Regions from separate parts of the Homo sapiens genome. Here region 2 is linked to region 1. Evidence: fine-mapped expression QTL. A gene starts in region 1. The other region holds a variant in brackets. All regions are shown on one strand. Distances are from middle to middle. Region 1 holds the start of IL20 (interleukin 20). Region 2 holds the start of LOC105372878 (a long non-coding RNA gene).

What was found. PIP is the estimated chance that this variant, and not a neighbour inherited with it, causes the effect.
Region 2: its variant is fine-mapped to the expression of IL20 in testis (GTEx, PIP 0.97).

Annotation. Positions count from the first base shown.
Region 1 is chr1:206,863,589-206,867,987 of GRCh38, forward strand. It overlaps IL20 (interleukin 20), which reads left to right and starts at 2,035. Exons shown (of 6, transcript NM_018724.4): 1 at 2,035-2,098; 2 at 2,235-2,423; 3 at 2,711-2,776; 4 at 2,896-3,048; 5 at 3,796-3,870. The coding sequence starts at 2,265.
Region 2 is chr1:206,841,250-206,845,648 of GRCh38, forward strand. It overlaps IL19 (interleukin 19), which reads left to right. Exons shown (of 7, transcript NM_153758.5): 7 at 1,278-1,732. The coding sequence ends at 1,373. LOC105372878 (a long non-coding RNA gene) reads right to left here and starts at 1,572. Exons shown (of 3, transcript XR_922482.3): 1 at 1,260-1,572; 2 at 174-469. The variant A/G (reference allele first, on the strand shown) is at 1,631.

The DNA of each region.
Region 1 (4,399 bases):
CAGCCTTTCCTGAGCTCAGGTAAGAGATCTTACCCTCTACTGACACTGCTCACGTTGTTGTGAGGATCACCTACTTCTCCTAATCATTTACCCAGGTATGTTCAAGGTCACATCTAAAGGACCCTTTTCCACGAGGACAAAATCTCTTTGAGGACAAATAATCATCATGTTTATCTTTGTACTTCAGTACCTAGCACAACATTCAAGACAGCGGGTGCTCATTAAATGCTCATCAAATTGTTAGTTCAGGACAACTAACATCAATCTCTACTTAAAATGAATTGATCACTTGCTCTGTGCTAAGTGTATAAATCATAGATTATTGTATTTAAATAATCGATTTAAAATCAAAACAATTTCTGGGTTAAGTTTAATTATCACCATTTTGGGGTTAAGAAAATTAAACTCAGAGGTGAGTTGACTTGTCCAAGGTCACATAGAGGTAGGGTGGCCAACTCATTCCAGTTTACCTGTGGTTTTTCCAGTTTTAAAACTGAAATTTTCGTATTTCAGGAACCATTCCCTGCCCCCCAACCTCAGTGCTGGGTAAACTGGAATGACCCACATCAATGGAAACTAGTAAAGCGAGGATTTATTTGGACCCAGTTCTCTTGTCTCCAAACCCAGAGTCCTCTTTGATTCTTTTGGGTTTGGTTTGCTTTTTTCCTTTTCCTACATTTGACAGTATCTCGAGTGGTCACAAATGTAAAAAATGTCTAGCATATTGCCTGGCATATAGGAAAAATTCAGTAAGTGATAATGATTATCAGTGCTGTGCCAAGCTATGGAGCCAGCCATATATATATGGATGTGTGCATATATATATATGATGTGTGTGTATATATATATGTCTTTATAAATTTTATGTATTTATTTCTTTCAAAAATATTAAAGTATTTGAGAAAATTGAAAAATTAAAAAGTAGGTTTATTACGACTCATGACTTTAAGTTTAAATATTTTATTTCTGCCCCAAACAAAATTTATTATAATTTTACTGTCCTGGTTTTAAGGGAAGGAAACTCATCAATAATATTTTCATCATATGCTTTTGAGAAACAAAGTTAACCATTAAGAATGAAACATGAAAACATGTGAATAGTGGTACAAATTTTTCCTTTTGCTTCAATATGGCTCAGCATGGCACTGTCGAATTTTGTCTTTATATAAAATTTTGATATTTTGTTTGTCATAAGCTTTTTAATTCATTTTGATATTGCACTAAAATATTTTTATCTTGATGACTGAGGTTTTTTAGTGCTCCCTTAAATTTTGCACCTAAAATGAGTGCCTCAATTGTTTTACCCTAACCTCAGCCCATTATTATTTTATCTTAAAACTCAGCAAACACCCTAACCTGCTCTCTTACTGAGGAGGCTCGCCCAAGAATAAATGAGTTCCGTCATTGCCTTTCTTCTCTGACTTTTGGGACCATTTGCTTGGTCTAGGACCTGAGTTGCAGGTCCAGGAAAGCGTGTACTCTCGAATCCACCCAGGAGTGCCTGACTACAGTCCTCCTGCAGAGGGCGCTGTGGAGTCCCAGACACGAGTGTTAGGTGGAATCGGGCTGATTGCCCATCACGTCTTGCCTTTCCCTGGCAGTAGGCTTGTTATGAAATCATTGACTTTCTATTTGCCTCTGGGGCTTAAGCGAATCTGTTACCCTCAAATAACCTATCTGATCTCAGACAAATGCCAAACAGAGCTCAGTTTCTCTGCCCTGTGGGTGGCCATAAAATCCAGACAATTTCCCCCTAGGTGTTTTCGATGGCGCAGCCACAGCTTCTGTGAGATTCGATTTCTCCCCAGTTCCCCTGTGGGTCTGAGGGGACCAGAAGGGTGAGCTACGTTGGCTTTCTGGAAGGGGAGGCTATATGCGTCAATTCCCCAAAACAAGTTTTGACATTTCCCCTGAAATGTCATTCTCTATCTATTCACTGCAAGTGCCTGCTGTTCCAGGCCTTACCTGCTGGGCACTAACGGCGGAGCCAGGATGGGGACAGAATAAAGGAGCCACGACCTGTGCCACCAACTCGCACTCAGACTCTGAACTCAGACCTGAAATCTTCTCTTCACGGGAGGCTTGGCAGTTTTTCTTAGTAAGTTGCGTGGATGGGCCACACTGTCTGAGGCCAGATAAGGCTGTTCTCTTCCCCTGACCCCCCACCCCTCACCCCGTGGACACTTGGAGGAGGGGAAACTCAGTAAGTCATGCTCTCTTCTTTGAATTCCTAGCTCCTGTGGTCTCCAGATTTCAGGCCTAAGATGAAAGCCTCTAGTCTTGCCTTCAGCCTTCTCTCTGCTGCGTTTTATCTCCTATGGACTCCTTCCACTGGACTGAAGACACTCAATTTGGGAAGCTGTGTGATCGCCACAAACCTTCAGGAAATACGAAATGGATTTTCTGAGATACGGGGCAGTGTGGTACGTAAGCGGGTATCTACCTCTCCTGAAAGCCTTTTCTCTTCCTTCCTTGTCCGTTTCTCTTTCCTGGCAGTACTGGCAGTGTAATCATAAAAAGAGGCAGGCTGGGGATTCCTTACCCGGGGGATGTATTCCAAAGAAATAACTGTAGTTCAAATATTTAAAATGTTTTGGGAAAGGACACCTCCCACTAGTTCTTGGCAGGGAGTGGATGAGAAGTCTTGATATTGAAGACCCTGGCAGCAGGCACTGACTCATCCTTGCTTGTTTTGTCTTCTTCTGTTTAGCAAGCCAAAGATGGAAACATTGACATCAGAATCTTAAGGAGGACTGAGTCTTTGCAAGACACAAAGGTATGTGCTTGGCCCAGACAAACTCTGGGAGGAGGAGTGGAGTGGGAGCATCTCCATCACCCTGGTCTTGTCTCTGCTCTCCCCTTTCCCCTCACCAATATACCTGTGGTTTTTTGCAGCCTGCGAATCGATGCTGCCTCCTGCGCCATTTGCTAAGACTCTATCTGGACAGGGTATTTAAAAACTACCAGACCCCTGACCATTATACTCTCCGGAAGATCAGCAGCCTCGCCAATTCCTTTCTTACCATCAAGAAGGACCTCCGGCTCTGTGTGAGTGTGGGTCTTGGGTGACAGGATGCATCTCAGCACACAGCTTCAATGGCTTAGCAACTAAACTCTCTTTCCTACCTCCATTTAATGGATGGAGAAACTGAGTCCAAAAGTTCTAATAATCTGTGTTGAGACATGTGACTAGGTAATAAGAACTCAGTTTTATTGACTTTTCGGTATATGCTCTAGGCAAAAAGTACTTTGCAAAGTCTAAAGAACTATAAGATGCTAACTATTTGATATTAATGATAACTCTGTTGTCTTTGAAATTATACTTTTTCTGTAGGTGAGGTATCCTACAGTATATTAGTGCGTCCTCTGTCTAGGCAGTCAATTAGTAGACCATTGAGCTTGACCTCAGAATATAGTCTGAATAGGACCTAGGAATTCAATTCTTTTTTTTTTTTTTCTCATGGGGGCTCAAAGAGCTCTGGGATAGAGCTCCTAGACTACAGCTGGGGGTTGTGGGGAGGCCAGATGGGGTACGGGGATGGCAAATGCCTTCAGTACTGCCTGCCTATTTCTAAAAAAGAAGTGATGAGTTCCATGTTTGAGCCTAAAAGGTGGCTTCCTCTCCTAGCTGATGATGAACTTAGTGATTCCAAATGTGAGGTCTGAAAGAGCTTTTCTATAGGAATAAGCATCCTCAGGGTTGTGGGTGAAAGAGTAGAGTTTCTGCCTGCTTCATGTCAATGGCAAAAAATCAGAATCTGTAATATAATCTATTATTCTTTGGGTCCTTTTCAGCATGCCCACATGACATGCCATTGTGGGGAGGAAGCAATGAAGAAATACAGCCAGATTCTGAGTCACTTTGAAAAGGTATATGCGACTTTGGCATTGATTGGGATGGGTGTGTTTTAAGAACTGAGATCATAGGTAGGTGGGATGGTTATTCACTGTTAGACATCCTGTAGCCTTCAGGTTCATAGCCCTCTGAAATCATGAGGACCAGCCCTTGCTTTAACCCAGGGGACACCCATCCAGGCTCTAGAGGAGTACCCTCTCTGGGTGATGCTCTGGAAATGGAAAGGGAATGGCCATGATTCCATCAAGTCACTACAGTGACATCTGGATCTTTTAGCTGCACAAACCAGAGGCAATAGTTTTACAATGTTCACACACTTCTATGTACCTTTGAAAACACTCACAATTTCACACACACACCCATGCCATTCAATTTCTCACCTTCACACCTTCTCATGTCTGCCAGGAAGGCCTGGATTTCACTCCTCACTGACTAAATCCTACTCATCCTTTAAAGACTCAGCCTGGGCATCACTTTCAGGAAGGTGCTGGCTCCTTCTCTCAGAGTTAGATGCCTCCCACATCATCTTGTAGGAATTTCATC
Region 2 (4,399 bases), 22 kb before region 1:
GCTAATCTCCTGGGCTCCCCATCTCCATCATTCCTCCACCATTTTCTCATACCCTCATATATCAAGCCTGACCTGTATGATTTGGGGAAAGCACCCACTGCTTAAGATGGGATGACACAGAGGGAGCAAAGATCCCCCATGAAATGTGAGCTGTTACGCCTGAAACGTGTTACCTGCACGCCGTCACTGCGATCACTACCTGCCCCCCCATATTGTGTGTAGTGATGAAGACATGGTACTTCTCATGTTGATGTTGGTGTAAAATGCACATCTCACGTGGAGGTAGAGGAAGAAGCAGTGTTTCTCATGAGCATCAGTTCAAGATCTTGTTAAAATGCAGATTCTGGCTCAGCAGGGCTGGGATGAGCCTGAGTTTCTGCATTTAGATCACACTGTCAAATGATACCAATGCTTTGAAGAGCAAGAGTTAGGGAGTCTGTTATGGGCTCTGCTTCTTTGTGGAGAGACTCTGTAAGATAATGTTATAGAAATAGCTAAGAGTTACATGGTTCTTACTATAAGCCAGGTATTGCTCTAGGCACACAACAAGTATTAACACACATTCGTCCTTCCCAACAATGCTATGAGTCATTATCTGCATTGGATACATTAAGAAACTGAGGCTCGAGCAGGTAAAGTAACTAAACTAAGTTCACACTGCAACTGCACGGCAGAGGTAGGATTCAATTCCACGCTGGCTGGCTCTACAGGACGCGCTAAAAGCATGAACTCAGTCTGCTGAGGAAGGAGGTGGAATAAGGCAGGAGACTTGGGTTTCATTTCCAGCTCTGTTACTAACTGGCTGTGTGACATTGGGTAGGACACTTGCTCTAGGGGCTTTAGTGCTCTAATATGTCAAATGAGGACAACATGCTCTCCCTACCCACTGTCCAGCACCTCAGGGACAAAGATGTTCTGGGATAACAGAAGCACTAAAGCAAGCTGGTGTGGAGAAGAAAATCAGCGGAACTGGCCAGTAAGGCAGATTTTTTTTTCCTGTGAAAAACAGAGGAAAAAAAAACCTGAGGGAAAAGAATGAAGAATTTTAAAGTTCTGTTTATAAGGAGCTGACATAATTTAACTACTTGTTTGTGGGGAAAAAAATTGGTTGCCTGCGAGGAAAATAATATTGAGTCTGTATGTTATGCAAATATATTTCGTGACAAAAAAACAAAAACAGAAACAAAACCTTGTGGGAACCAGCATATGAAGAAAGTGACTTGAAAACCATTACACAGTCTAGAAAGGTGGGTTCTTACATTGATCTCTGATTTCAGCTGGAGGTCCACGCTGCTGCCATTAAATCCCTGGGAGAGCTCGACGTCTTTCTAGCCTGGATTAATAAGAATCATGAAGTAATGTTCTCAGCTTGATGACAAGGAACCTGTATAGTGATCCAGGGATGAACACCCCCTGTGCGGTTTACTGTGGGAGACAGCCCACCTTGAAGGGGAAGGAGATGGGGAAGGCCCCTTGCAGCTGAAAGTCCCACTGGCTGGCCTCAGGCTGTCTTATTCCGCTTGAAAATAGCCAAAAAGTCTACTGTGGTATTTGTAATAAACTCTATCTGCTGAAAGGGCCTGCAGGCCATCCTGGGAGTAAAGGGCTGCCTTCCCATCTAATTTATTGT[A/G]AAGTCATATAGTCCATGTCTGTGATGTGAGCCAAGTGATATCCTGTAGTACACATTGTACTGAGTGGTTTTTCTGAATAAATTCCATATTTTACCTATGAATGGAAGGATCTTTTCATTCAGGGAGAGTCAGTCAAGACTGAGGACAGGGTGTTTCTGACAGAGGGATGGTTGTCATGGTGACAAAGCTGAACAAGCACAGACACAAGTAAGTAGAGAGGCCACTGGGTAGAGAGGCTGAAAAGGGTACCAACATCTAGATGGACACTGCATAGATGATTCAGAGCACAAATGTGTATCTTTCAGATTTCATATCACATGCTTTAATGGAAAGAACAAGACCTCTGAAGTCCAATTGATCTGGTTCCAATCCTATGTGACTTTGAACAAAGCACTTAACGTTTCTAAGACTCAGTGTCCTCTGTTGTAAAGTGGAGATATTAACACCAGTCCTGTAGTGTTGCTGTGAGCATCGAGTAAGGAAAAGGTCTCTCATGACCTCAGCAGGGTGGGAGACAGCACGGTGCAATATAAAGACTGCCGACTCAGGGGCCACCTTCTGGTTCTAAGGCATCTCCTGCCATGAATTTCCCAGGGCAGGTCAGTACATTTCTTTGGTCCTTAGTTGTTAGTATTGTGGATACTGACCCTTCTGTACTACCTGCTCCATATAATTATTTATTTATTTATGGAGACAGGGTCTCACTTTGTCACCCAGGCTGGAGCACAGTGGCATGGTCATAGCTCACTGTAGTCTCAAACTCCTAGCTCAATCAATCCTCCCTCCTCGGCCTCCCAAAGTTCTGGCATTACAGACTTAAGCCACCACACCTGCCTCTATAATCATTTAAAAGCTGGAGTCATTATGAGGGCTTTGACAACCCTGATATCTGCACACACACCCCTCCTGGCTGTTTTCCCTAACTGTGTCCCTGCTCCTTCCCCAGGCTCACTGTGACCCAGCCATAGTTGTTTGCTCTGTGTTTCGCAAACACACCAGGCATGTTCTCACCATACAGTGTATGCACTTTGTGTACATGCACACTCATAAACTGAGGTAGGGTTAAAAAATAAAACAAACCCTCCACACATTATGCGTTAATGGGATTCATACGCTATTAGGGAGCAGGGTTGTTTGCTGAGGACCTAACTTTTCCAAAGTGACCTTGGATGGGCACCCACCCTGAGCAGGCTGGGTGATGGCAGTTATAGCATTTCTGATCTTTTATCACTGCCCTGGGATGTGCTTCCCCTGGACACCTGCATGGCTTGCACCTCCACGTCTTTCAGACCTTCACTCCAAAGGTCTCGTATTGGAGGATAACCCCCCATTTCCACCTTCAGCACACTTTGTACCCCTTTCCTGTTTATCTAGCATCCTATTTTGTTTATTAGCTGCTCCTCCACATGAATGTAAGCTTCATGAGTGTAGGGATGGTTTAGTTTGTTCACTGCCTGGCACTTAGTAGGTGTTAAATTCACAATTCACCTAGATTATTTATTCAAGAAATGTGAATAACCACAAACATGTATATAGTGCTTCCTATATGCCAGCCGATAGTCTAAGAAATACACTTCTTGTAATATAATATAATATAAATACATATATATATATTTCATTTAATTCTCACAACAATCCTATTGTAGGTTTTTAGAATGAAATAAAATGAAAAAGGCCACCTCATTGATTGTTAGCAGTATGGATAATTAAACCCTAAGAAGGAAACTAGGCACAGAGAGCTTAAGTAACTTACCCTAGGCCACATATCGCATAAGTAGAAGAGCTGAGCTTCCAATCCAGGCAGCCACATTCCAGAATGAACTATAATGTCCACAATAATGTACATATGTTGAGTTCATCATGTGCCAGGCACCAAGGTGAGAACTTAACTTATGGCTCCTCCTTTACTCCTCACGATAGTTCTCTAAGGTACGATTATAATTATAATGTGAATAACTCTGCACTTTGGGAGGCTGAGGTGGGTGGATCACTAGGTCAGGAGTTCGAGACCAGCCAGGTCAACACGGTGAAACTCCGTCTCTACTAAAAATAGAAAAAATAGCCAGGCATGGTGGCGGGCACCTATAATCCCAGCTACTGGGGAGGCTGAGGCAAGAGAATTGCTTGAACTCGGGTGGCAGAGGTTGCAGTGAGCTGAGATTGCTTCATTGCACTCCAGCCTGGGTGACAGAGCTAGACTCTGTCTCAAAAAAAAAAAAAAATTGTCTGGAGATTAGTGAGGTTTGACAATACACCTAAGGCCATGTTTCTAGTTGTACAACAGAGATTCAAACTCCGGGTGTCCTACTCCAAAGCCTGAGCCCTCCATCATGATGGTTTGTGGCTTGTGCATCTTGCTCATGTGACAAGAAGCCCACAAGAGAAGGTGATTTACTGGCATAATGACCTGCACCTGTAGGAAATATTGTTATTATCAATGGTAGTAGAAGTACTAGTAGGAGAGGAGGAGGAGCAGGAGGAAGATAATTGAAGAAGAGCTCATCCTTTCTGAAATGGCTAGTATCTTGCTTAAAACTCTCCTAGGTCTCTTGTTTGCTTCCTTTCCCCGTCTACTTTTCCTTTCTCTTTTTTCAGACTTGAAGAATATGTCCCAATGCTTTTTGAGTTCGCAGTAGTTCTGGCATAGTGGGGTGTGTGTGTGTGTGTGTGCGTGTGTGTTTGTGTGTGTTTCTTCACAGAGCTGGTGCTTAAGAAATACATGCTAAGAAGCCAAGAGTAACATTATCTCCCAAACCATGCTGAGTCCT